Linked DNA regions of Homo sapiens. The protein of the gene in region 6 interacts with the protein of the main gene of each other region in a pairwise test. Each region holds a gene or a part of one and is shown on either strand. Other genes may lie near its edges. The genes, in order: ATP23, ZFP90, PUDP, ZG16, SAXO1, GLYCTK and ANKRD53.

Region 1 (4,351 bases), on a different chromosome or scaffold from region 6:
ACCAAAATAAAAGAAGTTCAGTGATTCTAAAATCTCCTTCCATAGACTCGATCTTCTCTCCCACATGACCTCACCTCTCCCCCACAAGCTCACCTGCCTGGAATATCTCTACCCACTCTTCTTCATTGGCCACACATCTACCCATGGGACAAGTCCTAGTCCTAAGTGTACATGCTCCAATTGCCTCGCCCAGTGACTAACTTCTCCCTTCTCCTCTCTCTGGACTACAGCAGTACTTAGATTAAGGACACGTATTCACACACCATCCTTACTGGGCTGATCGTACTAGTCTGTCTCGGACTCCACAGCATTATGGTTAAGAGAGTGGGCTTTGGAATGAAGCACACAGATTCAAATTCCAGCTCCACCCCTTACTAACTCAGTGACCTTAGGCAAGTTTCTTAATCTCTCTGTACCTCAATTTCCTCAACTATAAAAAGGAGATAATTAGGGTAGCTACCTCATAGAACTGTGAGAATTAAATGAGAATATATGTAAAATACTTCTTATCAAGTTTCTGAATGAGCATTGAATGAAAAAGGAATGACCACCACTGTCCTCATTTTACTAGAATGAGGGCAAATGCCAGGGAAAACTCATCAGAAAGACCTTCAGAAAGAAGTGCAAAACACAACAGCACACTGAGCAGGACCCTATAAGAATAAGAAAGACACAAGGGATCCTAATAGTAATAGCTGCCATTGATTGTGTACTACTGCCAGACACTGGGATATGTGCCAGATATTTATATACATTCATTCAACATCCATTGATTCAACTAATACTTATTGAGACCTAATAATAGATTATAATCTACTGATGGAGATAGAAACTAACCAAATATTTACCAAAATGTTTACATACATGCAATGACAGTTGTCATGAAGAAAAACCCAGGTTGTCATGAGCATATACAATGAGGTTGGGTGCAGTGGCTCATGCCTATAATCCCAGTACTTTGAGAGGCTGAGGCAGGCAGATTCCTTGAGCCCAGGAGTTCGGGACCAGCCTGGGCAACAGAGCAAAACCCCATCTCTATAAAAAAATAAAATAAAAATTAGCCAGGCATGGTGGCACATGCCTATAGTCCCAGCTACTTGGAAGGCTGAGGTAGGAGGATCACTTGAGCCCAGGAGGTTGGTGCTGCAGTGAGCCAGGAACACGCCACTGAACTCCAGCCTGGGCAAGAAAGGGAGACCCTGTGTCAAAAAAAAAAAAAAGAAAAAGAAAGAATGCCTGACCTACTCTGGAGGTGGGGGAAGGTTTCTCTGTGGAAGGAATGGTTAAACTGGTATCTAATGGAGGAATAGAAGTGAAATTTGAGGTGTGGAGGGGAAGGGAGTATTCTAGGCAGAGAGAAAAACCTATGCAAAGCGTAGAGGGAGGGTTGACGGAAGAAAATGCTTGAGAAGCTAAAAGGAGAGCCCTAGAGTTGAAGCACAGCGGTGGGGGTGGTAGGCAACAGATACGGCTGGTGAGGTCGGGGGGCCAAATCCCTGAAGACCTTGTCTTTACCCTAAGAGCAATGGGAAGCTCTCAGGATAAAGGGAATGTTGAAACAGAAGACTGCTTTTGTTTTATTTTGCTTTTATCCTTTTAACTATAGTTGGAAGAATAGGCAGGAGATGGCCAAAACTGGATGCAGAGAAATTAGCTGAAGGCTAATATTCTAGGCAAGAGAGAACAGCACTTCAGCTAGAATGGTGGTGGAAGCCAAAAGAGTTATTTAGGAGGTAAATTAGACAAAATATGTTGATAGAATACGGGGAAGGAATCAGGGGTATCAAAGATGATCCATAAATTTCTGGCTTGGCTAATAGGGTCGATGGTAGCACCATCCACTGAGATATGCAAAACTAAAAGACTGGGTTGAGTGGGGAGATGGGGGATGGTAAAAATCATGAATTTGGACTTACACATTTCAAGTCTGAAGTGTCCTTAAGACCCTTAAGTAGGTGGGGAGCAGTGGCTCTCACTTGTAATCCCAGCACTTTGGGAGGCTGAAATGGAAGGATCATTTGAGGCCAGGAGTTTAAGACCAGCCTGGGCAACATAGTGAGACCTCATCTCTACAAAAAATTTTAAAAGTTAGCTGGGTCCAGTGATGCACTCCTGTAGTCCCAACTACTCAGGAGGCTGAGATGGGAGGATTGCTTGAGCCCAGGAGTTCAAGGCTGTAGTGAGCCATGATTGCGCCACTGCACTCCAGCCTAGGCGACAGAGCAAGACCCTGTCCCAAAAAAACTTTTTTTCCTTAAAAATAAAAATAAATAAATAAATAAAAAGATGCTCAAGTAGAGGTGTTAAATGGGCACTTGGATATATGGAATGTGGAGTTCTTAAAAGTGAGCTTTGACCCCAGAAAATTGATGAGACCTCCTTGGCAGAGTAAGAAAAGAAGGGGCTCTATGACCAAGGATTGAGGGACTTTGACATTTAAATGCTAGTAGAGGAAGGTAAGCTAGCAAAGGAGCAACCAGAAGAGTGCTGTATACTAGAAACCAAAGAAAGTGTTTGGCATTAACAGCTGAAGTCAAGTGTATACAAACTATATGACCCAGTAATTCTGCTCTTGAGCATATACCTTAGAGAAACTCTTGCACATGTGCACCAGTAGCGAAGGTCAAAAATATTCATAGCAGCATTGTTCATAATAACAAAGTTGGAAACAATCAATATTAGAGTAAACTATAGTATAAACACACAACGGAATAAATACCATATAACAGGGAAACGAAATAAACCAGAGAGGTACACACAACAACAAGAAAGAATCTCACAAATGCTGAAGGTGGAAAGTAATTGGAGACTATATACTGTACAATTTCATAATACTACAAAATGCTACATAAAATTCAAAGTATAACATGTATAAAGCTCAAAAGCAGGCAACTAAATAACACACTGTTGGATTGTATATGTAGATGGTAAAGCCATTCAGAAAAGCAGGGAATGGTTACCACAAAAGTCAGGATAAGGAAGGGAAAAGGACCTGATTCAAGAGGACCACGAAGGCTTCTGAAGTCCTAGTAATGTTCTTTTTCTCTAGTCTGGGTGGTGGTTACATAGGTGTGCACTTTATTATTACTGAAAGTGTACATATAGATGTTTTACTCTTCTGTATGAATGAGATACTTCATAATAAAAATTTTCATTTAAAAAAATAGGCCAGGCACAGTGGCTCACGCCTGTAATCCTAGCAGTTTGGGAGGCCAAGATGGGTGGATCACCTGAGGTCAGGGGTTCAAGACCAGCCTGGCCAATATGGTGAAACCCTGACTCTACTAAAAATACAAAAATTAGCTGGGCATGGTGGCACATGCCTGCAATCCCAGCTACTCAGGAGGCTGAGGCAGGAGAATCACTTGAACCCAGGAGGCAGAGGTTGCAGTGAGCCCATATTGCACCACTGCATTCCAGCCTGGGTGACAGAGTAAGACTCTGTCTCAAAAATAATAATAATTTAAAAAATAATAATAAAATAAAAGGAGAGGGTGCCCAACTGTGTTCAACACTGCTGAGAATTAGGATGAAAGTTCAAGATGTGCACTCTGTTTAACCCTGGGGGGACCGAGAAGGGAGTGAACTTATCCAGAGCCATTTTGAGAGCTATAGGTATTGTGATTACCAGTTTACAAATGAGGAAACTGAGAAGAAGAAAAATAACTTGCCCAAGCCCCACAGATAATAAGCAAGGAAACTAGGATTTGAACTCAAGTCTGACTCCAAAATCTAGACTTCTCATCCTTGTTCTATATTGCCACTTCACATGATTACTGTAAAAATGCTATAAATAACCTAAATACATACAAAATTATCCAGCAGGAAACAGTTAAGTGTAGTTAAGTATGAATTATACATTCAAGTGGGAAACAGTTACTTATAACACCATCATTTACCCTGATCACATGACATTATCTACCACCTCCAAGACTCTGTCGAAACTCTCTGATGACTTAAAACTAATAATAAAATTTATTGAATGCTTACTATGGGCCAGGCACTAAGATAAGCAACTCTATAAGAGATATCTCATTTAATTCTCATAATCATTCCATAAAATAGATACAATCGTTGCCCAAATTGTACAGATTAGAAAACTCCCCTAATAAAAAATTTTCACAGGCAGTATCAATTCTCACCACGTAAAGGTAAAAACCCTTTAATTTAGCATTCAAAACCTCCCACCATAGGGCTTACATTTCCTTCCAATCCTATTTTCCCTCATTCCCCACATGTTCCTGCCCTCCAGATAAACTAGACAATATGCCATTCCCTACACATGCCATGCAGTTTCGTAGCATGCACTTTTGCTCATGCTGCCCCTGCTCTGTCCCTGCTCTGCCCCTAA
Region 2 (3,022 bases), on a different chromosome or scaffold from region 6:
TGATTACAGACTAGTGTAAAAACAGCTACATGTATGTAGCTGGTTGGGGATGATATGCCTGTATGTTGGACTTTGCTTTTGAATATATGTATGCAGGATATCATCAAGTTTCAACATCTTGACTTGTGACCCCCAATGTCAACAGCTTTTTTAAAAAGCAAATTCCTGCAGTAATGACCAAAACCCATTTTAAAAATTGCTTGACAACTGCACTCAACTGCAGCTCTTACATTAACTTCACCATGGAAACCAGTTCCAACTCCAGGAAGTCACCATTCAAAGAATTAGATCAACTAGCCCAACCACTTCATTGTACAGATGAAGACTGAAAGCCAAAGATGTGAAGTGGTTTCCACAGTATGATACAGCCTATAAGGGTAAAGCTGGGTTAAAAATGCAGGTTTCCTGGATTTGGGGCCCCATGGCCTTGCCAGTGAAAAGGTTATTTTTGGACTCAGAGGGCTTTAAAATAAATTTTAAGATGTATCAGATACACAAACATTTAATGGGCACCTATGGGTTGGACACTTTGAGAATTCTTAAAAGTATAAGTGGGAGCAAAATGTATGCAAATTTATCACAAACTATTTAAAGCAACTTCTTGGAGGCTTACAAACCACAATTTAACAGAAACTGTAGATGGTTGAACTACTAGTGACTTTTTTCCCCTTTTCCCAGTTACAATTATACTTTCAGCTAACATATGCCAGTTTCACAGAACTATTAAGTCCCCTTATTGTACTTTTTATGGCATGCCCATGAAAAAGCACTTTCTTAAGCCTACAGTATCAGATCAATGGGAAAACAACAGAAAACTAAGAGGAGAATTTTCCCGTTAATTTTCTTGCAGAAAAGTTAAGTCTAATTGCCCATTGCCATAAATTTTGCCTTGTACTCAGAGAAGCAACATGCACTGGCTCATTTTATGTGCAAAGAAAAGATTTCACCATTAAAAAAATTAACTTGGCTAGGTATGGTGTCTCACACCTGTAATCCCAGCACTTTGGGTGGCTAAGGCAGATAGACTGCTTGAACCCAGGAGTTCAAGACCAGCCTGGACAACATGGTGAAACCCCATCTCTTTAAAAAAAAAAAAAAATCCAAAAATTAGCTGGGCATGGTGGCATGCAGTGGTAGTCCCAGCTACTCAGGAGGCTGAGGTGGGAGGATCACTGGAACCCGGGAGCAGAGACTGCAGTGAGCTGAGATCACACTACTGCATTCCAGCCTGAGCAACAGAGCAAGACACACACACATCAATTTATTTTAGTTGTATAATGCTTTTCTATTAGTAAAGCATCAGCTAAGCTTCAGTGGCCTGCTCCATCCCCTAATGACTCCCATGGGCTATCCTAAAGGAACTTCCAGAACCTTTGTTGGTGTGTTGACATTGACCATGCAGACCAATTTGGGCACAACTGGACATTGATTCCTTTTACACAAGAGCTGCCTCCCAAAGATAGATAAATTTTCCCAGCCCTAAATATGAATCATGGGGCAAGATATTGGTCGTATTGATGGTGAACCTTTCCTACTGGATTCTTTGCATGCCACATAGCAGGATTCATTGCCTTTCTCTCATCATGGATGGCATGCAGCAGCACCCAAGTATTCTTCATTCTTTGCAGGGAAAAAATTGTGCATGGGGGCTGAAATGTAATATGTGTAGCTCAATTAGTCTCTCCTCTGTGATGCAAAATGGAATATTCAATGGCAGATCTGCCCTTCTGAGATGCTGACCATCCAAAACACCTTGTTTATGGTGCACCATGATTAGCTCACACACAATGCCAAGGCTGTGCTTCTATTATCTGATACATAGTTTGACAATGGGTAATTCTACTCAGACCCTCCCTACTGATTGGCTAGGATGCCTGTCAGGAACTCATTATGCTACTGGTTGTTTGGGGATCCCCATAGTGGACTACTTTCAGGAATGGCATGAATTGTAACCAACTGAGTGCTGCCCCCACTGTTACGGAAGTTTATAAAACCTTAGTTCCAGAAGACCCAAAGGAGAGTACTGGTTTGTGTTTGGTGCTTGGCCTAGATCCAGCCACCACTCTGAAACTCAGCACATCTTCATTGACAGGGAGGGAGCCCAGGACATATGTGTGGCTCATTGACCAGAAGGCTTTCTTAGTCCCAACAGCCATGAACCATGCACTTATGGATACCCAGCCTTTTAGGGCTACGTGAAATGCATCCTTGTAACATCATTGTATTCTTTCAATAAATAGCCTTCTGAGTTGAATGGGAGTCAGTTTGTCGTTTTCAATTTTCAGAACTTGGCTAAGATTAAAGAGTGGTGCACCAAGAGGGAGGAATTAACTGCTAAACTCATCACAGCCAGGTGAGTTAATAGCTACCATTTATTGAATGCTTACTACTTTAAAGACATTGTGCTAGGTGTTTCACATCTGTCATTCAATCCTTATAACTTCTGGTTAGCGGTGTGGTGGTAGTTCTTGTCTTTGCCCAGCATTTTCCCCCTTTTCCTCTTGCAACAATCTGATTGTATTGACTGTAGGAACCTAAATCAGGATGTCCCTGGGGCTCACTGATAGTTTTAGGGGCAGGCATGAGACCTAGTTCAGCTAATCAGAGTCCTTTGCCAGAATTTTTTCCAAGTAGAGCTGGAAGGAGCCCTACTTTGGGCTTTTGTGTTGCTAGGCCAAAAGATAAAGGCCTAGAGCTTCCTGGAACCTGATTTCTTACCAGAGATGGGAAGTAGGAGAGGACAAGGTTGACATGATGGTGTTCTTGTTTCTATTTCCTGATGTCCTTAGACCTGGCTCAATTTCTGAAGCTCTCCTTGGGATTCAGGAAGCTCCCCATCAGTCCAACAGTTTCTCCTTTTTGCTCAAGCTAATTTTTTATGTTTGTTGCTTGCATTAAAGAAACCTAAAATATGTATGATATACTTTTACCTGCCAGAGCATCTAGCGCACCTCCATGGAAGATGAGAAAAGACTTCTGCACTTTTAGGCATATTGATGGTGGTGATGCTTGGTTTTTTTAA
Region 3 (3,718 bases), on a different chromosome or scaffold from region 6:
CATAACTGCCAAATGTAATCAAAGAAATATAAACTGCAGTGTCTAGACACTGACTACTGTTGCACAGCAGCATCACTCCTATTCCTTAGAATGCCGATTCTTTCAAGTATAAGACAGGTGTCTTCCAGATTATTTTTTTATATAAAACACCAAACTCCATCTGAGGATTTATGAGGTGGAAAAAAAGTCTAATAAGTAGTAATCAGTAAGTTCTTAAGTGTTGTGTATGTTTCATTTAAGTGAAATTAAGATGACGTTGATAGCGCCATCTCTTGGATGATATCAGCAGTATAACAGGTCCTTCCTAGGGGCACACAATATATAAGCAAACATTAGCTGCTAGTTACAGCACACCTGTATACATTCTACTAATCACTGTGTGTCCCTAATACGACATACTTTCAATGAGCTATGAAAGTATAATTACTCTTTAAACTTCCTTGGCATGTATCACTCTAGTGTAAATTTGTATTACCATATCTCTGTGAAATCCATGAGCTATTCAATGGAGTAACATCACTAAAATGTATTGAAGCAATTTGGCTAATGTGGAAGAATAAAAAAGAACGTATGTGCTTTGGCCAAGCATCAGTGTGTGTCCTTTGTCTAAAAATATAAGAATCTGGCAGCAGCTTTGGTTAAAAAACAGTAACGGACATGAGATCAAATTTACCCTGTAGGAAATTCACCCAGATGTAGATGCACATCACTTAGATATGCATTACACCCATTTGTCTTATTCATACAAAATGGCTTAATGATTAGAAAACACCAACATAAATACTTGGGAAGGAGAAGATACTAAATCAAAGAAGTAAGTCTTTCATTGAAAGCCTCTATTCACCACTGCAGGAGCAGGACGGCTCACTTAAAATATATAAATATCCGTTTACAGTTGGAGTACTAATTGGGATTTTTAAAAAATTTAATTAGTCACATATATATTTTACATTTCTTGGAAGACTGTTTTTTTCTTTTTAAGGTAAAATCATGACTCTCATACAAATATCAACATGTGTCAAAAGATTTTATTAAACTAATTCAATTTGTTAGGGAAATGGTAAGATGTTACAACTGGTTAAGAGGAGCATTAAAAGTGCAGACATATATTCAGGCCATCAAGAATGAGGAAATGAATTTGCTAAATTGATGCAACATCAATCAATAGCCAGGGCCTGTCATTCACAGACAATCACTCCACCACACGCACACATACATTCCTACGGTTTGTCCACAACTTCCAGAGCTGAAGAGTAGCTCAAGGACATCAAAGGGCAGAGGCCCCTAGGAAGGGCTGAGCCACAATGAAGCAGTGCTCCTTCACTCCCGATTTCCATGGCTACCACCGTTTTTCTCTGGCAAATCAGAGACGAATTTTAAAGACTGAGTAAATCTATAAAAGCGATTAATCACAGAAGTTCAATGTCTGATAAATTATTCCAAAAGTGTTCCTGGGCACTGAGACTCACCAAGCATACATTCTGAAATCAAATTCTATTTCTATCCAAAAAGTGCAGCCCATCAGTGTTCTTAAAGGAGGCAAATGGTTGTTGTGAGGTAGCAAACATTTTCCAATGCAGGTAAGGATGTAGATACCAGGTAAATGTTACAGTTGTGTTCATACTAACAATAAACTATGGATGACGTGGCACAGAGTCAGTCAATGAGGAAAGATCCAGAGACATTCTGAGGTCACAAAAAGAATTTAAATGTTAGCTAACAAGGAGTGCTCATCAAAAACAGGACTTTCCCACTCAGACTGCAAACCAGGCAGAACTACCATCTCGCTTTATCAGTTGTCATTGCATGTTGACATCAACACTGAGGAGAGTGATGCAGACGATAGATATAAACATATCTACATACATATGCATACATAAAGCATATACTTATATGCATACACAGTTTACATTTCCCAGCCAGTGTTCAGAAAAACTAGAAGAGAGAAGTGATGTTCCATTTTGTCTTGGAAAAGTATATATTTTACATATACATGCATGCATATGTCTACATACATATGCATGTAATGCCTACCTGCATATTACCAAACTGATACACACATGTATATATGGAGGTGTGTGTGTATATACATGTACATTCACTTTATCACATACTCCATCAGCTTGACTTCTGAGATGGTAATTCAAGTTTCATCTTTGTTCTGGGCTTCGTTTCTGTCTCTACTGTATTTTTTGTCTCAACCGTCAAGTCACATTTTATCAACACGTTAGACTGGGACAAACCAACATGGGATGGAAACTCCAATCTCAGGAGGCTAAAATCACAGCGCAGGTTGGGATTGAAGAGTTGCTGATTTCCTTTCCCTTTCCCCCAGCAGTGTGGACCATGAGAGTGGGCTGGGGGCGGAAGACTGAGGCCCTCCCTCTCACTCATAGGAGGGCAAACCAAACAGCTCGGGCTGGAAGTCCTGCAGGGAATTCAGCACCAGGGTGGCCTTTGTTGTCAGATCTCGGCTCAAGTTTCCGTCAGGAACCATGACCACCTGCATCCCAGCTGCCAGGGCCGCCTCCACCCCATTGGGAGCATCTTCAAAGACAAGGCACTGTAGGAAGAAAAAGAAAGTCGAGATGGCCTTTTATGGAACCAGACATGTGGATGAAGTGTTTATTATCGTCGTCACCATTGGCTCTGCAACTGTGCAGAAAGAGACAGAATTACAGTGGGGGCTCCCCAGAGTAGAGATTGTGGTGAGGACAGCATGCTGTTTCTTACTGGCTCCGGGGGTCTCCCCGCCGTGGCTCCTTTAAAGGGGAGAGGTTTCTGTTGCAGCCAAAGCATTGTTGAAATGGAGCGCAGCTGTGTGGTGAGGCAAGATTCTCAGCTTAAAACTTTATTATTTTATTGGGATCATAACAATCTGTTCAATCAATAATTGAACATTCAGAGTGTGAGAGGCAATTGCAAAACTAAAAATCATGCTCTTAAAATATAAAACCACTTCAGAGCTGCTCCTGTTTTATGTACTGTGGTTTGAAAATTAAATGGTTAGAATCTTTTAAGTTAAAAATTCAGTTCCTGTGTGTGCTAGTGTGACGTGACAAATGAGCACGAAAACGTAGTGTGCGTGCATGCTCTCTTTTGGATAATCGCGAAAATCCACTTTATTATTGGGATTACAGACACAACACCATCCAAAACCCGTGGTCTCTTCATTCAGATACCCACATTGAAAATGGGGTGTTTCCTACTGGCAACTGCAAAGATATGGAACCAACCTAAGTGCCCATCCACCAATGAGCGGATAAAGAAAATGAGGCATATATACACCATGGAATACTACTCAGACATAAAAAGGAATGAAATAATGTCTTCTGCAGCAACATGGATGGAGCTGGAGGCCATTATTCTAAGTAACTCAGGAATGGAAATCCAAATATCGTATGCTCTCACTTATAAGTGGAATCTAAGCTATGAGGATGGGAAGCCATAAGAATTCTATATAATGCATTTTGGGGACTAGCGGGGTGAGGAAGAAAAGACTACATACTGGGTACAGTGCACACTGTTCGGTTGACGTGTGTGCTAAAATCTCAGAAATCACTGCTAAAGAACTTATCCATGTAACCAAAAGCCACCTGTACCCTACAGACTATTAAAATAAAAATTAAAATTAAAAAGGAAAAAAATAAAGTACTAAAAGAAAAACCAATACATAAAATGGGGTGTTTGTACACTGCATTTATCAGTGAGCTCCTAA
Region 4 (4,896 bases), on a different chromosome or scaffold from region 6:
GTGGCTTCCTGAGGAAGGAGGAATCCCAGATCTGAGAGGGCTTAGCAGGACACCGGGGCTCATGGGTAGAGGTGAGGAGGAACTGGGCCTGGTAACAGGGCAGGGTCCTCGGGCACAGACTTCAGCTAAGTTTCAGGAGTCAGGTGGGTTCTGGGAAAGAACAAAGGCTAATGGTCCTGGCCACCCACACACAGCAAGTGAGTTCACCACTTTCTCAAGGGGAGGACCAGGGGTGAGGAGAGCTGGAGAGTGGGACATCTGGGGTTTTGGTGTAAGCCACAACTAGGCCTTGCCCTCAGACCCATGACTCCAGTTTGGATCAATGTTCCAAGGAGCTGTCCTTGAAGAGCGTTGATGCAAGCCAGAATCTCATCTCCTCTTGATAAATTATAGCACAAAGCCCAGGATTCTTACATACCTCTCCCTCATCTTCCCATCTTCCAGACAGATGTCCAAAGCCAGCCAGAAGTGAGATTTGCACGTCCCCGGCTAAGTCAGGAGGCAGATATCCCAGCCACAGATGCCCCCACACAGACTAGCCTTAACCATATTTTTTTTATTGAGCCATTTGGATGGGGGTTAGTGATAAGGGAGTTCTTACTCCTCATCACAGTGCCCCTGCCAAGGAGAGGAGGCTCAGCATCTGCTGCAGCTACTGGGGTAAACATCCCAGTGCAGGCCAATGGCATCGATGAGAGAACCAGACCGGCCACTGATGAAGCGGAGCACGGTGTTGGGGTGCAAGGGGACGGCATTGAAACTTGTGCCACTGTCTTTCCCAAAAGACAGATAGCGGCCCTTGTCTGTCACAAATACCAGCTTCTTCAGGTACCACTTGTACTTCCCAGAAACCTGGATCACTGATTCCCCAGGGTGCAGAAAGATCTCCTCCAGGTCTCCGTTGCGACCACCCACATAGTCGCTCCACACCTTGCCATAGCGCACCTGAAGACTGAGGAAGAGGGGAGGAAGGAAGGAGAAAGAAAGGTGATGATAGGGATGAGAGGTCTCTGGCTAGTCCTACAGACTGTGAAGCCTGGGTGAACCCTGGAAGATCCTACAGGGAACTTCAACTCATTTTGCCAACAAAGAGACTCTGTCACCCAGGCTGGAGTGCAGTGGCATGATCTTGGCTCACTGCAGCCTCAACATCCTGGGCTCAGGCAATCCTCCCGCCTCTCCCTCCTGAGTAGTTGAGGCTACAGGTACTCACCACCATGCCTGGCTAATTTTTTTGTTTTTCTTCGGTAGAGATGGGGTCTTGGTACCTGGAGCATGGTTTAAATCCCTGGCATCCCTGGCATCTTGCCCAGGCTGAGCTAGAACTCCTGGCCTCAAGCGATCTGCCTCTGCCTCCCAAAGCATTGTAATGACAGATGTGAGCCACCGCGCCCAGCCAGGAATTCAAAGAATCTTACCCTACGATGTAGTATGTGTTGACTCGGACCCGGAGGGCGGTGATGGGGCCGTCCAACTGGTTGCCAGAATGAGAGAATCGCTTTCCACCACCACCTCCATACTCTCCACTATAGGAGGAAGACCTGGCCTGAACTGGAGGGGCAAGCAGGAGTTGGAGGGAGAAATCTTCCAGGAGTTCAGTTTCTCTGCATCACCCCTGTTCCTCCGACAACTCAGCTCCCCACCCCAAGCCAACCTCCAAAAGCCTTGGCCAACAGCAGTGCCCAAGGCTGCCTTCCCAAGTCCCCAATACCAGGCTCCTGGTATCTCACTTACTGGCATTGCCAGAGGCTGAGGCACAGAGAAGGGCTAGGAGAGCGACTGTCAACATTCTGGGGCTGGAGTGGGAAGAAAAGAGCAAATGAAGATTCACCTTCTTCCTTGTTGACTTGATTGACCCAGGCACTCCTGACCTGCAGCTCAGACCAAGCCTTCTTCGTCCTTCAACTTAGACCTAGCAGACCCAGTCTTGAGCTTAGAAAGGACTGTCCATAGCCTGTAGTCCTGTTCCTCTCTGATGCTACCTTCAATGTCCCTGACCCCTCCAGCTCTCCCTGGTCTGGCTGTAGCCAAGCCCTCCTCTTTTTCTCTCAGGCCTGAAGATGAACTCTAACTATCTGGATTAAGCCTTATTCCATCCTGGCACAAAGCAGAAAAGTTTTCTGAAGTCAGCCAAGCCCAGGTACATTTGGGTTGGTATGGCCATAGCCAGGAAACGAGTTTTCTAAGGAGGGAGTAGAGGACCTCTCCCAAGCAAAGAGATGGCTGAGTTTACTGAGCCCAGAGGCTGAGCAAAGAAAGCCTCATCATCTGTGGTGAATTGGCCTGGATTATGGGGCACCTGGAGCATGGTTTAAATCCCTGGCATCCACCTGGTCTCAAGGAAAGAAGCATTTTAGAGTTGCCTCTATGTTACCTGGGGAGCAAAGTTGGTGACAGAAGGAACTGTGCCAGCACCAGTATCCAAGCAGTGCTGGTGGAACTAGGACAGACAGAGAAGTTGCAGAAGGAGTCGGGACCAGCTCAAGATATTAGACCCCAGGTGCCTGGTCTATGTGTCACTATTCTTTTCTCCACTAACACACATCTGGCCATTTCTATTCTCCTGAACATCCCAGGTGTCCCCAGTCCTTCAGCAGAGACCTAGACAGCTTTGCACCTAAGATTACTGCAGACCCAGAAGCGCCAATTAACTCAAGTCTTTCCTGCCATTCCTTCCAGGCATCCTCTTCGCCAGCTCAGATTTGAATTCCCCCCCAACTCAGATTCAGGCATCTCTGTCACCCCTCACCTGACAGTTTCAGATGCAAAGCAGCCCCCTGGAAACTTCCAGATGTTTTATACCAGGTCCAAGCCCTCCTCCTGCCCTTTATTGTGTGAACCTCACCTCCTGAGCAAACATGAGCAACCTCTTCGGATCAGGTGTCAGGCAGGGTCTGGAACACCTTATCCTGCCTCTACCCCATAGTCAACAGATACTACAGCATAGGGTAAGATTCTCTGAGTTCCTGGCTGGGCATGGTGACTCACACCTGTCATTACAATGCTTTGGGAGGCAGAGGCAGATCGCTTGAGGCCAGGAGTTCTAGCTCAGCCTGGGCAAGAGTGTGAGACCCCATCTCTACCAAAACAAAAAACAAAAACAAAAATTAGCCGGGCATGGTGACGAGCACCTGTAGCCTCAACTAATCAGGAGGGAGGTAGGGAAGATCGCCTGAGCCCAGGACGTTGAGGCTGCAGTGAGACAAGATCACGCCACTGCACTCCAGCCTGGGTGACAGGTGGCAAGCTGGAGTCCACTCTGGGCCAAGTGCCGTATACCAGGAGAAACATAGTAAACTTAAGGTCACCACCAGCAGCTCTAGGTGGGCAAAGTAGCTTATCACCTCTAGGCTTAGTAGGTGCTCTCACCTGAAATCTGCCATCTGTCAGGACAAACAGAGCCCTTCCCAGGCATTCGAAATGTGGATTCTCCCAGAAGGGAATATATTCCCAAAATCTTATACTTACGAGTGCTGACTATTTGCCAGACATTTTTTTCTTTCCCTTTTCTAATATTATGAAAAATCCAAACACATATAAAAGTTTAAAGAATTGTACAGTGGCTGGGCCCAGTGGCTCACACCCATAATCCAACACTTTGGGAAGCTGAGGCAGCTGGATCACCTGAGGTCAGGAGTTTGAGACCAGCTTGGCCAACATGGCGAAACCCCATCTGTACTAAAAATACAAAAAGTAGCTGGGTGTGATGGCAGGTGCCTGTGATCCCAGCTAGTCAGGAGACTGAGGCAGGAGAATCACTTGAACCTGAGGGGCAGAGGTTGCAGTGAGCTGAGATCACTCCACTGCACTCTAGCCTGGGCGACAGAGTGAGACTCCATCTCAAAAAAAAAAAAAAAAAAAACAAAAGAATCGTATAGCAAGACTGGGTGCAGTGGCTCATGCCTGTAATCCCGGCACTTTGAGAGGTCAAAGCAGGAGGACTGCTTAAGCTCAGGAGTTCAGGACCAACATGGGCAACATAGGGAGATCTCGTCTCTACAAAAAATAAAACAATTAGCCAGGCATGGTGGTGCACACCTGTGATCCCAGCTAGTCAGGAGGCTGAGGCAAGAGGATCACTTGAGCTGAGGAGGTCAAAGTTGCAGTGAGCCATGATCGAAACATCAAGTCTCAAAAAAAGGAAAAAAAAAAAAAGAATTGTATAGTGGACACTTATATAACCACTGTATAGATTCTACTATGGTTAATATTTTGCTGTAATTGCTTTTTTTTCTTTCTTCTTTTTGGAGACACAGTCTTGCTCTATCCCTCAGGCTGGAGGGCAGTGGCGCGATCTCGGCTCACTATAATCTCTGCTTCCCAGGTTCAAGCGATTCTCCTGCCTCAGCCTCCCGAGTAGCTGGGATTACAGGCATGCGCCACCACGCCCAGCTAATTTTTGTAATTTTAGTAGAGACAGGGTTTCGCCATGTTTGCCAGGATGGTCTCGATCTCTTGACCTCGTGATCCGCCCACCTCGGCCTCCCAAAGTGCTGGGATTACAGGCGTGAGCCACTGTGCCTGGCCTGCATTTTTTTTTCTATCCACTCATCTATTTATCCCCAATATGCCAAACACTTCCCAAACCATTTCTCTCTGAGAAGGATGACTGGGGCTGCAGGTGCACAGTGAACACGTGCCTATTGCCCCACAGGAAACAGAGTCAGTCCAATGGGAAGTGCAAAGCTAAGGATCCGAAGGTCTACAGGTGTTCCTCTGGGGGTAATTCTGGGCTTTGGGCCCTCAAGTCTCCTGGGTACCATGGCTGAATCTTCCTGGGGCTGTAGGCCGCCCAGGGCCATTGCTTCTTTCTTAGGTCTGTAACACCCCCAGGGGTGATGTCATAGTTTTTTTTTTCTCTGTATGCCCTTCATTTTCAGGACTGATTCCTCTCTG
Region 5 (4,351 bases), on a different chromosome or scaffold from region 6:
CTAAATTGTGCCTGAAGCTTAACATGTTCCCATATATTAAAATTAATCTCAATGTTTCTATTTCCTTATCTGTAAAATAAAAGAGCTAGAGACCACTAAGATCCCTTTCAGCTTTAAAAGTCTGATTAACGTTTTACTTTACAGCAACCCTGCCTTGCGCCACCCACTCCCCCACCTAACCACAGTTTCAAATTTAGTCATCTGGGAAAGAACAGCTCAATAGACTGAAAACATCGCCAGGGAAAAGAGAGGCTAAAATCAAGGAATCGAATTTCCAAACTAAGCAATGCTTCCCATGTTGAGGGACCCACAGTAAGATAATAATATATGGGAAAATACTTTTTGAATTTTCAAAATACTGTAAAGATGGAAGGTGGTTTAATATTATAAAATGCTGGGCCGGGCGTGGTAGCTCACACCTGTAGTCTGAGCACTTTGGGAGGCTGAGGTGGGTGGATCACAAGGTCAGGAGTTCAAGACCAGCCTGGCCAACATGGTGAAACCCCATCTCTACTAAAAATTCAAAAACTAGAAAAGAAGATGGCAACCGTGTGGGATGAGGCCAAGCAAGATGGAACTGGGGTGGAGGTGCTCAACATGTCCACGGAGGAGATCATCCAGCGCACATGGCTTCTGGACAGTGAGATCAAGATCATGAAGAGTTAACTGTTGAGAGTCACCCATGAGCTCCAAGCCATGAAGGACAAGATCAAAGAGAACAGTGAGAAAATCAATGTGAACAAAACCCTGGTGTACCTTGTCTCCAACATCATCGAGCTCCTGGATGTTGATCCCAATGATCAAGAGGAGGATGGTCCAAATATTGACCTGGACTCCCAGAGGAAGGACAAGTGTGCTGTGATCAAAACCTCTACACGACAGACATACTTCCTACCTGTGATTGGATTGGTGGATGTTGAAAAGCTAAAGCCAGGAGACCTGGTGGGTGTGAACAAAGACTCCTATCCAATCCTGGAGACACTGCCCAGAGTACGACTCGCGGGTGAAGGCCACAGAGGTGGATGAGAGACCCACGGAGCAATACAGTGACACTGGGGGCTTGGACAAGCAGATCCAGGAACTGGTGGAGGCCACTGTCTTGTCAATGAACCACAAGGAGAAGTTTGAGAACTTGCGGATCCAACATCCAAAAGGGGTGCTGGCCCCCAGGGACGGAGAAGACCCTCCTGGCCTGGGCCTGTAGGGCACAGACTAAGGCCACCTTCCTAAAGCTGACTGGCCCCCAGCTGGTGCAGATGTTCACTGGAGATGGTGCCAAGCTAGTCCGGGATGCCTTCGCCCTGGCCAAGGAGAAAGCGCCCTCCATCATCTTCACTGATGAGCTGGATGCCATAGGCACCAAGCACTTTGACAGCGAGAAGTCCGGGGACCGAGAGGTGCAGAGGACGATGCTGGAGCTTCTGAACCAGCTGGATGGCTTCCAGCCCAACACCCAAGTTAAGGTAATTGCAGTCACAAACCGGGTGGACATCCTGGACCCCGCCCTGCTACGCTAGGGCGGCCTGGACCGCAAGATCGAGTGCCTGGGCCAGAATCATGCAGATCCACTCCCAAAAGATGAACGTCAGTCCTGACGTGAACTGCGAGGGAGCTGACCCGCTGCACAGATGACTTCAACGGGGCCCAGTGCAAGGCTGTGTCTGTGGAGGCGGGTATGATCGCACTGCGCAGGGGTGCCACGGAGCTCACCCACGAGGACTACATGGAAGGCATCCTGGAGGTCCAGGCCAAGAAGAAAGCCAACCTACAGTACTACGCCTAGGGCACGGCAGGCCAGCCCCGGACTCGCGGCTGAAGTGCGCAATAAAAGATGGTTTAGAGGCAAAATAAAACAAAACAAAAAAAATACAAAAATTAGCCGGCCGTAGTGGCGGGCGCCTGTAATCCCAGCTGCTCGGGAGGCTGAGGCAGGAGAATCGCTTGAGCCCGGGAGGCGGAGGTTGCAATAAGCCAAGATCGCGCCATTGCACTCCAGCCTGGGCAACAGAGCGAGACTCCGTCTCAAAAAAAATAAAAAATAAAACTCTTCGGAGTAGCATTTTTTCAATAACAGGAAATGCTGGAGATAATCAGATGCAATTGGAAACATTATACTCTCATATACAAAATTAGAGTTACTCTATTCAAAGCACTCCCCCACCATGTAGCTTCTTAAGTCAAGATAATTAAGTGGTACATTAGTTTCAAAAAAAATTTAGATGCTGACCTTACTGTTTCTGCAAACCACAATACTCTGCTTTTTTGGTGCTGATTATGTTGAAAAGAGAATATTATGACATTCTATGGTAATAATTCCAATTGCAAGATTTTGATCTTCAAGGAAAGAAGTAGAGCATTGTTGTGGAGGCAAAGCCTTGAGCTTGACGCAGTAAAATATGTCTGATTTTTTTTTTAGCCCAGCAAAGCTCACTGAAAAGTTTTACAAGTGATTGGAATCTTTAAATTTAGACATTTGAAACACTTTTCACTTCGTAATCTGCCATCTACTCTGAAAGGCGTACCACTTTCCTGAGCTCTGCTGGACCCTAAACTCTAATTGCTCATTTTAGAAAACTAAAGATAAATCTATTTAAAAATAAAATAAAATCCAGAACTCCAAAGGTTTTGCTTTTCCATTCAGGCTGATTTGGTTTAACCCGCAGTGAGAATTGATCAGGAAACGTCTGCCATCTTGTGGCCAAATATAAGAACTTGCTCCAAGAGAGTCACCCATTGGTGGCTTTTCCTCAGCAGCTGTGGGCAGCTGCTCCTGCAGATGGACACCTTTTTATCCAGGCCTCTGAGCATCTCCAGAGCCCACTCGCCAACAAGTACAATGTCCTCAAAAGTTAAAGTTGAAAGGACATTAAAGAATTATTTGCTCAAGAAAAACTTCGGAAGAAGAGAATGTGAGAGAGAAGGGGGAATAAATGTGCCTCTCTCCCTCCCTGGCAGCCCTGAGGGTCTCCACAAATCTCCAGGATTAAAAAATGGGGGAACTGAAGCCCAGAGAGAACCAGTGACTCACTCAGGAACCCCGGTCTCCCCCTCCCACTCAAGGGCGCTGTCTCTGACTTCTTCATGCATGCTTGTCTTCCAGATTTCCCATTGCTTTTTCCCATGACCTCAGACTGGAAAAGCCAAATATAGACTTCCACAGCTTAGAAAACACCTATAAAATTCCTCGCTCCATCCCAACCGGTCACTGAGCAGATTTAATTGGGGTGGGAGGGATTTAATTGGGGTGGGAGAGATCAAGACTTCCAAATAATGAGACTCAAGATCAGTGTTGTCCAACAGAACTTTCCGCAGTGATGGAAACACTCCCTATCTGCATGTGCCGGTATGGGAGTGACTATACTCGAGTAGCTACTGAGCACTTGACATGTGGCTTGTGCAGCTGAGAAACTGAATTTTTAGTTTTATTTAACTTTCATTTATTTAAATGAAATTGCCACAGCTGGCTACCATACTGGACAGTACATCTCTAAATCTTACATTCCTAACCCAGTCCAGCATGTTATGACCTTGACAAACAAAAAACGCCATCCATTCATTCAAAAAGATATGTGTTAGCTGTTAATAAAGAAAACTGTGTTGCTATGATACAGTGCACACACAAAAATAGAAAATATCTGTTTTCCCAGCGTACATATAATTAATCGAGGATATAAAGCATGCTGATGCATAGAGGATGAGAACACGGAGCGGGGTTTTTCTTTGATGGGGAGCCACAGGGCTGGGTTAACAGGGAACTTGCAAGTGAAACCGGGCCTTACAAGTCCAGCAGGAGGAGGGAACATAGGTATTTTAGAGAAAGGGAAAGGATAAGGATCAGAAAAGGGACATCAGCAGGTCCACTCAGGGGATGCCAAGAAACCTGATCCAATTCAAGGTGTAGTTTCATGTAAGGGAATCATGGGAGAAAAAAAAACTAGGAAGGTAATTTAGGACCAGTTTCCAAACACAAAAATGAGAGAACCAGGGAGGTTGTAACCGGAATAAAAGGGAAGGGACCAATTAAAGAAAGATTACAATGGAGGAGGGACCCAGACTTTAGAAAAGAGTCAATGTGCCAGGCTCGGTGGCTCACGCCTGTAATCCCAACACTTTTGGAGGCCAAGGTAGGTGGATCATTTGAGGTCAGGAGTTTAAGACCAGCTGGCCAACATGGTGAAACCCCATCTCTACTAAAAATGCAAAAATTAGCCCAGCATGGTGGTGGGTACCTGTAATCCCAGCTACTTGGGAGGCTGGGGCAGGAGAATCGTTTGAACCCAGCAGGCGGAGGTTGCAGTGAGCAGAGATCGCGCCACTGCACGACAGAGTAAGACTCCATCTCAAAAAAATA
Region 6 (4,791 bases):
GACACCAAGCAGTGGCAATTAGTGTTCTCCAGCATGGGGAAAGATGAAGGTTGTTTATATAGGCCGGGCGCCTGTAATTGTTTATACGCCTGTAATCCCTGCACTTTGGGAGGCCAAGGGCGGTGGATCACAAGGTCAGGAGTTCGAGACCAGCCTGGCCAACATGGTGAAACTCTGTCTCTACTAAAAATACAAAAATTAGCTGGACGTGGTGGCGGGCGCCTGTAGTCCCAGCTATTCGGGAGGCTGAGGCAGGAGAATTGCTTGAACCTGGGAGGCGGAGGTTGCAGTGAGCCGACATCGTGCCCAGGCTGCAGTGCAGTGGCCGTGAGCTGAGACTGTGCCATTGCAGTCCAGCCTGGGTGACAGAGCAAGACTCCACCTCAAAACCAAGAGAAAGAAATGTGTTTTTGTTTGTTGGTTTTTTTTTGAGACAGGGGCCCAGGTTGGAGTGCAGTGGCGTGATCAAGGTTCACTGCAGCCTCTACCTCCCAGGCTCAGGTGATCCTCCCATCTCAGCCTCCTGAGTAGCTGGGACTACAGGAGCATGCCACCACACCTGGCTCTTTTTTTTTTGGTAGAGATAAGTTTCGCCATGTTCCCAGGCTGGTCTCGCATTCCTAGGCTCAAGCGATCCGCCCACCTTGGCCTCCCCAATGTTGGGATTACAGGCGTGAAACACTGCGCCCTGCCAAGAAACATGTTTCAATAAAATTGTTAGGAAATCAAGTGTGTGATTTGTGATGCAACTCTCTCCTCTATCTCCCTAAGAAAACATCAGTAAAAACAGTGAACTGTTTTGTATTTTTGGAGTCTGATCAGGACTCATCTTATGAATGTGGGAAGGCATCCAGCCAACACAGGGTAGGCCCCGGATGAGAGTAGGGACAGCGAGGTAGGCCCAGAGTCATTAGCGTTTACATGCCGCTTATGTGCTTGAGGATCGCAGAATGGAACTCTTGCTAAGCCAGAGCTGTATTTGGTGGCCCATGGTGGGAGAGGGAAGAACAATAATAAGTTGTGGAATAAAAGCCATGGAGAGGAGCGGGAATTACTTAATCTGGCTCCAGAAGGGGTGAGTTGTGGGGAAGTAGTGATTCTCAGTTCGTTTGCTCAGCCCAGTCAGTGCCTGACACTCAGGGTGCATCTGCTGACTGACCGTACAGGATAAAGGAAGGGAGAGGCCGGGTGCGGCGGCTGAAGTCTGTAATCCCATCACTTTCGGAGGCTGAGGTGGGTGGATCGCTTGAGGTTAGGCGTTCGAGACCAGCCTGGGCAACATGGCGAAAGCCCGTCTCTACTAAAAAATACAAAAATTAGCCCGGAGTGGTGGCACATGCCTGTAATCCCAGCTACTCGGGAGGCTGAGGCATGAGAATCGCTTGAATCCGGGAGGCGGAGGTTGCATTGGGCCGAAACCGCGACTCTGCACTCCAGTCTGGGCGACAGAATGAGACCCCGTCTCAAAAAAAAAATCGGCAATCGGTGAGGCGGGGATTATTACCCTCAATGTAGAGATTTAAAAAATGAGGACTGAAGGTGACTCCTTCCAGGTCTGTCAGTGGCCAGCAAAGAGCCAATATGCTAAACTCTCCCCTCCCGGACACCGGCTTCAGCCAGAGCTCGCACCCGCCTGCGCCGCTCCACCCACCCACACTTCCGGCTTCCGCTCCGCCCACCCCCTAGTACTTCCGTTCTCCAGCGCTGGGCACCGCGGCCGGAGCTGTGGGCTGGTAAGTCTGCGCCGCCAGGGCTCGCATGGCCTTCAGAAGCGGTCCCTGGGCTGGGCGATGACGGGTCCTGGTGGCAGCAGGCCCTTCTTTCTCGCATCACCGGGCATTACGCGGCAGCCATTTCCCTCGCTAAGGCCCTACCTTAGGATGACGTCACTTCCGGCCCCCTACTGTCTAGGGAAAGCCGGAAATGGTACCAGCCTTCTTTGATGGCGGGGAGGAGTCAAGACCGGTAGTCTTCCTATTTCCGTTGTTTTGCTCTGGAGCCTCCCGGAGTTTCGGAGAGACCGTGTCTTGGATAGAATTGGAGGACTTAGCAAATAAAAATGCAAAGCGTCCAGTTACATTTTTTTTGAGTTAGAATCTCACTCTGTCACCCAGGCTGGAGTGCAGTGGCGCGATCTCGGCTCACTGCAACCTCCGCCTCCCCTGTTCAAATGATTCTCATGCCTCAGTCTCCCGAGTAGCTGGGATTACGGGCGCCCACCACACCCGGCTAATTTTTGTATTTTTAGAAGAGACGGGGTTTCACCACGTTGGTCAGGCTGGTCTCGAACTCCTGACCTCAGGTGATGCGCCCGCCTCAGCCTTCCAAAGTGCTGGGATTACAGGCGTGAGCCACTGCGCCGGGCCACGTCCAGTTAAATTTGAGTTAAGATAAACGACGAATAATTGTTAAGTCCTAAACATTGTATGCACATACTTATACTTTAAAAATTACTTGTTTATTTGAAATTCAAATTTAACCGGAAGTCCTGTATTTTCTCTGGCAGCCTTAGCATTGAGCGTCCCCCTGTCCTGTGCTCATACCCAGTGGCAAGGCTGGGATCTTCTAGGCTCTTGTCCATCTGGGAAATAGATACAAATTTCATCCAGGCTATAAAGACCGGCTGTCTTAGTTGCTAAGATGCTTTTAGCTCCAAGTCCAATGGGCAAGCTCCAGGGGTCCCCCTGGCCAAAACTGGACCCATTTTCGGAATCCCCATGACGATGCCCTCTGTGTTCCCTTTCACAACAGAAGTCAGGCATGGCTGTCTTTTCTTACCGGAGAGCTGAGAACTAGGCAAGCAAAATGGTCAAAGTCTAGAAGTAACCACCATATTTGGGTGTGGGGTAAACCGGTGTTTGAGATCTGTGTTGCAGTGGACAGTATCAGAGAGCCTGAGGTTGTTAAGGGAAGAGCGTAGTGTTAATCTCACCCCATGTCTCATTTTGCGGATGAGGCCCAGTGAGAGAAATGGAGGTGTCCCAGCCACTCAGAAAGCCTATAGTAGAGCTGGAACCTCAATTCCCAGCCTCCTTACCCTGCTCAGTCCATACTTGCTGATGAAGTCAGCTTGCAACATTTATGGTAGGCATTTATTAAAGTAGATGCAATAGTACATATGTAGTACAGATGAGCTGTTTGGGTCTTTGTTGTTCCTATACCCCTCTACAGCTTCCTGACCTTCGCCCCAAGGCTTCTTTAGCTTTTACTCTGCCCAGTGGGGAAAATGGCTATGGGCTCAGTTATGGGAGCCTGGCCTTTGCCTACTTCAGCCCTTGGGCTCTCACCACTGTGGGTGGTGTGACCTAGGACTTGTTTTTGTTATCTTGGAACCAGAAGGCGTGTTCTTGGCAGGGTTGGGTCTGGCCAACTGTGTGGGTAGAAGGGCATCCTTTTCTGTCCTGCAATTGGGCTTCATGGCACATGGCCTCACATGGTGCCTGGGGACTTTTCTAAGGTTCCACCATGAGCCAGACTTTGCCCTCACTCCTGATTTGAACCTAAACCTCTTGCTGAACTGGTCCTGCATACTGAGATTCCTCAGATTGCTTGCCCTGAGGATGTGTTCTGGGTTTGACCTGATAAACCTGCAGCCTCCTATAGACCCTGACTTCCCAGGCTCCTAATCCCAGTCTCATGAGATAATGAAATAGAGAAGACTGGAGGTCAATGGGCTCAGGGTCAGTTGGTGGGACAATCAACAGCTTCCTGGCAGCAGAGGTGGTAAAGAGGCAAGGAAGGAGTGCCAGAAAGGGGCGTTGCCCCAGGGTAACAGCGCAGAAGTGCAGGGGGTGGAAAAGGGGTGGGATGGGAGCCCACTGGTAGAAATTACTCCCTCTGTCAATGATTAACTCCCAGCCAAAGGGGTGACCTGGGAGGAGGGCCCAGCTAATAGGAACTTTGGACTTGAGGCAGAGTATCCAGAGGGCCGGCATGTGGTCTGCAGAAGAGGAGGACGTGGCTGGGTGGCAGGGCTGGTCTCCAAGGACGAGTAAGATCCTGCAGCTGCAGGCTTCAGGAAGTCTCCTGGGGCTATCAGATGGCTCCTTCTTGTAGCAGCAGCTGTGGGGTCCACTGGCCCTGAGCCCTCAGAGGGGCGGCCGTGGGGGACCTCCTGTCTTTTGCCTTGCAAGGGCCTCAGTTGTGCTTTTTCCCTCTAGGCAGCCATGGGTGCCAGGCAGTGCTGAGAGCAGTGGGGCATGGCTGCAGCCCTGCAGGTCCTGCCCCGCTTGGCCCGAGCCCCCTTGCATCCACTCCTCTGGCGGGGCTCAGTGGCCCGTCTGGCCAGCAGCATGGCCTTGGCAGAGCAGGCCAGGCAGCTGTTTGAGAGTGCTGTAGGTGCAGTGCTGCCGGGCCCCATGCTGCACCGGGCACTATCCTTGGACCCTGGTGGCAGACAGCTGAAGGTGCGGGACCGGAACTTTCAGCTGAGGCAAAACCTCTACCTGGTGGGCTTTGGCAAGGCTGTGCTGGGTATGGCAGCTGCAGCTGAGGAACTACTGGGCCAGCATCTTGTGCAGGGCGTGATCAGCGTTCCCAAGGGGATCCGTGCTGCCATGGAGCGTGCCGGCAAGCAGTAAGGAGCCATGGGGGCCTGCCTCCCTCTATCTATCTGGAGGGAAACCTGGGCCCAGACACAGGCTGAATCGGGCCTCCCCTCCCCACCCGCTTCCCATTTCTCCTGGATCTGGCCTGGCCCCAGGATGCATGTCAGTGGGCATCTTCGTTCATGCCCCCATCACCTGTAAAGTTGAGAGATCAGGTGGGAGGAGAGGAGTCCACCCCATCTCT
Region 7 (4,833 bases), on a different chromosome or scaffold from region 6:
GGTTCAGAGACCACTAACCTCATCCACTCTTAAACCAACCAGCCCCCTGCCCTTTCCCTATGCCTCACCAGATTCCGTATGCCCACAAGATCTGCATGACCTGGGCCTAACCTCCTCGATCTTATCCTTTGACCTTGCCCACTCTTTCCCAACACATGGTCTTTGCATATGATGTTACCTCTACCTGGAACACTTTTCCCTGGCTCTTTGCATGGCTGGCTCACTCTGTCTTCAGGTTCCAATTTAAATGTCACCTCCTTAGAGGTGATTGCTTCATCCAAAATAGATCCTCCCCCTACCTGCTTTACCCCCTACACCATCACCCCGTTTATTTTTTCATAACCACTTCCCATGCTCTGTCAGGATTTTGTTCATTTATTTGTTTGCTAATTCACTGTCTGCTCCTTTACTAGAATGTCAGCTTCGTGAGGAGAGGGACCATTTCTGTGACTCTAGCATAGTGCTTAGCACATAGTGCATACTTGATACTTTGAATGAATGCAGTCTCCTATATGCCATGCACTTTTCAGTGATCACAGTAGTCCCATGTGATAGGTACTGCTATTCTCCCAAGTTTCAGTTGAAGACACTGAGACAGAGGTTCCCAAACTTAGCTTCAAGTTAGAAGCACCTGGGGATCTTTTCTGACTTCCCAAGCCCAGGTCACACCACAGACCCATTAAATCACAGCCTTTGGATTGGAACACAGGTGTTTATATTTTTTAATTTTTTTTTTTTAGACGGAGTCTCGCTCTGTCGCCCAGGCTGGAGTGCAGTGGCACGATCTTGGCTCACTGCAAGCTCTGCCTCCCAGGTTCACGCCATTCTCCTGCCTCAGCCTCCCAAGTAGCTGGGACAACAGGCACCCGCCACTACGCCCGGTTAACTTTTTTGTATTTTTAGTAGAGACGGGGTTTTACCATGTTAGCCAGGATGTTCTTGATCTCCTGACCTCGTGATCCGCTCGCCCCAGCCTCCCAAAGTGCTGGGATTACAGGCGTGAGCCACTGCGGCCAGCCTAATTTTTTTTATTTTTTATTTTTTGAGACAGTCTCGCTCTATTGCCAGGCTGGAGTGCATTGGAGCAATCTCGGCCCACCGCAACCTCCACCTCCCGGGTTCAAGCGATTCTCCTGCCTCAGCCTCCCAAGTAGCTGGGACTATGCCACCATGCCACCCGGCCAGGTGTTCATATTTTTTAAGCTCCCTAGGTAATTCCAATGTACACCTAAGTTTGGGAGCCAGAGTACTGGGGCATAGAGGTTGAGTGACTTGCCTAAGGTCCTGCTGTCTGCTAGCAAGTTGCAGAGCTGGGATGTAGACTAGGTCTGTTAAAGGCCAATCTTTTTTTTTTTTTTTTTTTTGTTGAGACGGAGTCTCGCTCTTGTTGCCCGGGCTGAAGTGCAATGGCACCATCTCAGCTCACCGCAACCTCCATCTCCTGGGTTCAAGCAATTCTCCTGCCTCAGCCTCCCGAATAGCTGGGATTACAGGCATGCGCCACCATGCCCTGCTAATTTTGTATTTTTAGTAGAGATGGGGTTTCTCCATGTTGGTCATGCTGGTGTTGAACTCCTGACCTCAGGTGATCCGCCTGCCTCGGCCTTCCAAAGTGTTGGGATTATAGGCATGAGCCACCATGCCCGGCTAAAGCCCAGTCTCTTTATTACACCATGTGGATTCCTGACTGCTTTATGTGGGACCCAATCCTTGTCACCTCCAGCAACCCCTCTGCTTGTCCTGCATGGATTTGCCTGCCTGGAAGTAGGGCTGTGCCCGTGCCTGTGCCCGAAGCCTCCCTCCTGAAGCAGGCTGGACTCACGCATTGAGGTCTGCGCCTTTCTCCAGCAGGTAGTAGATGCAGGGGAGGGCCACGGTGGTGTTGTCCCTGTGGATGACGAGGTGCAGGGGTGTCTGGCTATTGTTGGTCAGCAGGTCCACGGGAAACTTGTACTCCTCTACCAGGACCTGCAGGCATGCAAGCTTGCCCCATTGGGCGGCGAAGTGGATGGCAGTGAAGCCCTGTGAGGTTCAGAGCAGGCAGGAGGAGGCTGAGTGGGACTGAGGTCCCAGGGTCCACAATTTATATAAATTTATTGGGGTTACCTTCACTTTCTTCCCTGTGTCCCCAGGAATGCTCACACCCTTTTGCTAATTAACCAGTGTGTGTTCATCAGCCCACCCAACCTCCCTGCCCCCAAAATGGTCCTTCCACAGCCAGAAGATGAGTTAAATTAGGAAGATCTACCCAGAAAAGGATATCTCTTCTCCAGGTGACCACTCCGAGCAGCGTAGCGGGAGAGGGACCTCGGTCTTTGCCCCAACACTCAAGACCTTACCTTGTCGTCGGTGGGGATTTCCCTGAGGCTCTGGTTCAGACAGAATCGCAGCCATTCCACGTTGCCCACAGCCGCTGCGAACAGCTGGTAGTAGCTCCCGATCGCCGTCTGGTCGATTGCCGTCTGGTCGGACTCCTTGCTGGGGCTGGGGTCAGCGCGGGGCGGGGTGAGCGAGGCAGGGCGGCGCGGCCTGGCGAGGGCAGTCGCCTGCGCACTGAGGTGGTCTGCGAGGTCGGGCAGGGGCTGGCTGGAGGGCGGGGCAGTGGGGAAGCGACTCTGGGCCACGGCCCGGGCACCTCTCGGGAGGCGATCCCTGGCCCCCGCCTGGCTGGTGGGCGGGGCAGTGGGGAAGCGACTCTGGGCCACGGCCTAGGCACCTCTCGGGAGGCGATCCCTGGCCCCAGCCTGTCTCTGCTGGCTTCTCGGGCCGCAGCCTCCGCCCCCGCCCGCTCCAGGCCCTGCCCACCAGGGAGGCGCTGGGCCGGGTTCTCGCTCCCTGCAGCCGGGACACCTTCTCCCGCTACCCACCTGGGCTGCTTGGACTCCGCGTCAGTCCAGGTGGCCTTCAAGGAGACTTTGTTCGCCTGCTGCATGGAGCCACTTGGAGTTGGCTGCGGCCGAGCACCTCTCCCTTCTCCCCTTTCTGAGTGCCAGCTTCCGGAGCCCGCCCGCCGAGCGGTGCTGCCCGCGGAGGCCATCGCGGGGCTGGAACTCGGACCCGGGCCGGGCGGGCTACTCACACACCCGCCGGCGCCCCGCCCCCGGGGGCCACTCCTTGCCAGCTGGCCGCGGTTTCCCGGCCCCTTCCAGGCCGCTAGGGTTCGGCTGCCTCTCTAGCTGGAGGGGCAGAGCCCGGGGGCCTCCGGGGACCCTGCCCGCCTGCCGCTCCCCACCCGCCGCTCTGCTCCCGGTCTGAGCCAAAACCCCCACTCAACCTCCCAGTCCTGCTGCCCGGGAAACTCAGCATCAAACACACAAACAACAAAGACACTTGGCTTTTGTTTCCGATTATCAAACTAATAAGTAGAAAACAGAAATATTCAATGTGGAAATTAAAAATTACCATCCCACCACGCACAGAAATCATGGTTTATTGCAATATATATGCATATCATGACTATTTTTTGTATCTCTTTTCGTTTATTAATAGCATTATATTACGAGCTAGCGCCCATTGTCACTCCACATACTAAACGTACATTATGACGCAACCAGAGCCCAGCGTCATAATGGATGTGCCATTGTTTCACATGTGCTGCCAAGAACGAAATGGCTCAACTCTGGTTGTTTTCTTAGAATGGATTCCTGGGAGTCGAATCACTAGGTGAAAGGGAATGAATATTTTTCAGCTGTCAATATGGGCTTGCAGACTGCCTTCCAGGAAGGTTATTATTCACTTCCACTTCCACCTGCAGTGAAGCGGGTGCGCTGCACATCAGCAGTGTGGCTTTTGGCAAGTTATCTGACTTAGTTTCTGTGGGCGGCAAGCCACCCAGGTGCCAAGGCAAGAGACCGAGGGCACAAGCTGTTCCAGTATAATAAAATATACAAAACAACAAGAGTTATACTAGATCTAGATCTAGATCATAGACGTGATTATATATGAATATCGTTAATCATTAGTTTGTAGCAATTACTCTTTATTCCAATATTGTAATAATCCTCGCTCTATAATCATAACCTAGGAAAAACCAGGCCATAGAGAGATAGGAACCAAAGGGACATAGTGAGAAGTGACCAGAAGACAAGAGTGCGAGCCTTCTGTTATGTCCGGACAGGGCCACCAGAGGGCTCCTTGATCTAGCGGTAATGCCAGCGTCTGGGAAGACGCCGGTTACCAAGTGGACCGTGGTCTGGCGGACCCTGGTCTGGCGGACCGTGGTCTAGCGGTAGCATCAATGCAAAGGAAAAGCACCCGCTACTTAGCAGACCGGGAAAGGGAGTCTCCCTTTCCCAGGGGGAGTTTAGAGAAGACTTTACTCCACCACCTTTTGTGGAGGGCTTGACATCAGTCAGGCCCGCCCACAGTTATCTGGAGGCCTAAACATCTCCCTGTGACGCTGTACTTCAGCGGTCACACTCCTGTTTCACTTTCATGTTCCATCCTGTACATCTGGCTCTGCCTTCTAGATAGCAGTAGCAAAATTAGTGAAAGTACTAAAAGTCTCTGATACACAGAAATAATGGCGTAAGCTGTCCTCTCTCTCTCTCTCTCTCTCCCTCCCCCTGTCCCCGCCCCCACCCCCACCCACCTCGGCTGCCAAGCAGGGAAGGGCCCCCTGTCCGGTGGACACGTGACTCACGTGACCTTATCAATCATTGGAGATGACTCACACTCCTTACCCTGCCCCTTTTGCCTTGTATCCAATAAATAACAGCACAGCCAGGCATTCGGGGCCACTACCGATCTCTGCCCTCTTGGTGGTAGTGGTCCCCCGGGCCCAGCTGTCTTTTCTTTTATCTCTTTGTCTTGTGTCTTTATTTCTACAATCTC

The links.
Region 1: the proteins of GLYCTK (region 6) and ATP23 interact in binary tests that used the Homo sapiens proteins (3 or more experiments, as listed by UniProt).
Region 2: the proteins of GLYCTK (region 6) and ZFP90 interact in binary tests that used the Homo sapiens proteins (3 or more experiments, as listed by UniProt).
Region 3: the proteins of GLYCTK (region 6) and PUDP interact in binary tests that used the Homo sapiens proteins (3 or more experiments, as listed by UniProt).
Region 4: the proteins of GLYCTK (region 6) and ZG16 interact in binary tests that used the Homo sapiens proteins (3 or more experiments, as listed by UniProt).
Region 5: the proteins of GLYCTK (region 6) and SAXO1 interact in binary tests that used the Homo sapiens proteins (3 or more experiments, as listed by UniProt).
Region 7: the proteins of GLYCTK (region 6) and ANKRD53 interact in binary tests that used the Homo sapiens proteins (3 or more experiments, as listed by UniProt).

Annotation. Positions count from the first base shown.
Region 1 is NC_000012.12:57,947,398-57,951,748, reverse strand, and holds part of ATP23 (mitochondrial inner membrane protease ATP23 homolog), read right to left. Parts: intron 1,036-4,351; exon of another isoform or gene 865-1,035; intron 1-864.
Region 2 is NC_000016.10:68,564,878-68,567,899, forward strand, and holds the end of ZFP90 (zinc finger protein 90 homolog), read left to right. Parts: 3' UTR 1-2,254; downstream 2,255-3,022.
Region 3 is NC_000023.11:7,047,910-7,051,627, forward strand, and holds the end of PUDP (pseudouridine-5'-phosphatase), read right to left. Parts: intron 2,564-3,718; coding exon 2,387-2,563; 3' UTR 1,011-2,386; downstream 1-1,010. UniProt on the Homo sapiens protein: Dephosphorylates pseudouridine 5'-phosphate, a potential intermediate in rRNA degradation. Pseudouridine is then excreted intact in urine.
Region 4 is NC_000016.10:29,776,160-29,781,055, reverse strand, and holds the start of ZG16 (zymogen granule membrane protein 16 precursor), read right to left. Parts: upstream 2,801-4,896; 5' UTR 2,750-2,800; intron 1,797-2,749; 5' UTR 1,790-1,796; coding exon 1,735-1,789; intron 1,552-1,734; coding exon 1,419-1,551; intron 953-1,418; coding exon 637-952; 3' UTR 1-636. UniProt on the Homo sapiens protein: May play a role in protein trafficking. May act as a linker molecule between the submembranous matrix on the luminal side of zymogen granule membrane (ZGM) and aggregated secretory proteins during granule formation in the TGN.
Region 5 is NC_000009.12:19,026,352-19,030,702, forward strand, and holds part of SAXO1 (stabilizer of axonemal microtubules 1), read right to left. Parts: intron 1-4,351. UniProt on the Homo sapiens protein: May play a role in the regulation of cilium length. Stabilizes microtubules at low temperature.
Region 6 is NC_000003.12:52,286,144-52,290,934, forward strand, and holds the start of GLYCTK (glycerate kinase), read left to right. Parts: upstream 1-1,684; 5' UTR 1,685-1,733; exon of another isoform or gene 1,734-4,160; 5' UTR 4,161-4,199; coding exon 4,200-4,576; intron 4,577-4,791.
Region 7 is NC_000002.12:70,976,850-70,981,682, reverse strand, and holds the start of ANKRD53 (ankyrin repeat domain-containing protein 53), read right to left. Parts: upstream 3,054-4,833; 5' UTR 3,038-3,053; coding exon 2,868-3,037; intron 2,587-2,867; coding exon 2,340-2,586; intron 2,023-2,339; coding exon 1,823-2,022; intron 1-1,822. UniProt on the Homo sapiens protein: Required for normal progression through mitosis. Involved in chromosome alignment and cytokinesis via regulation of microtubules polymerization.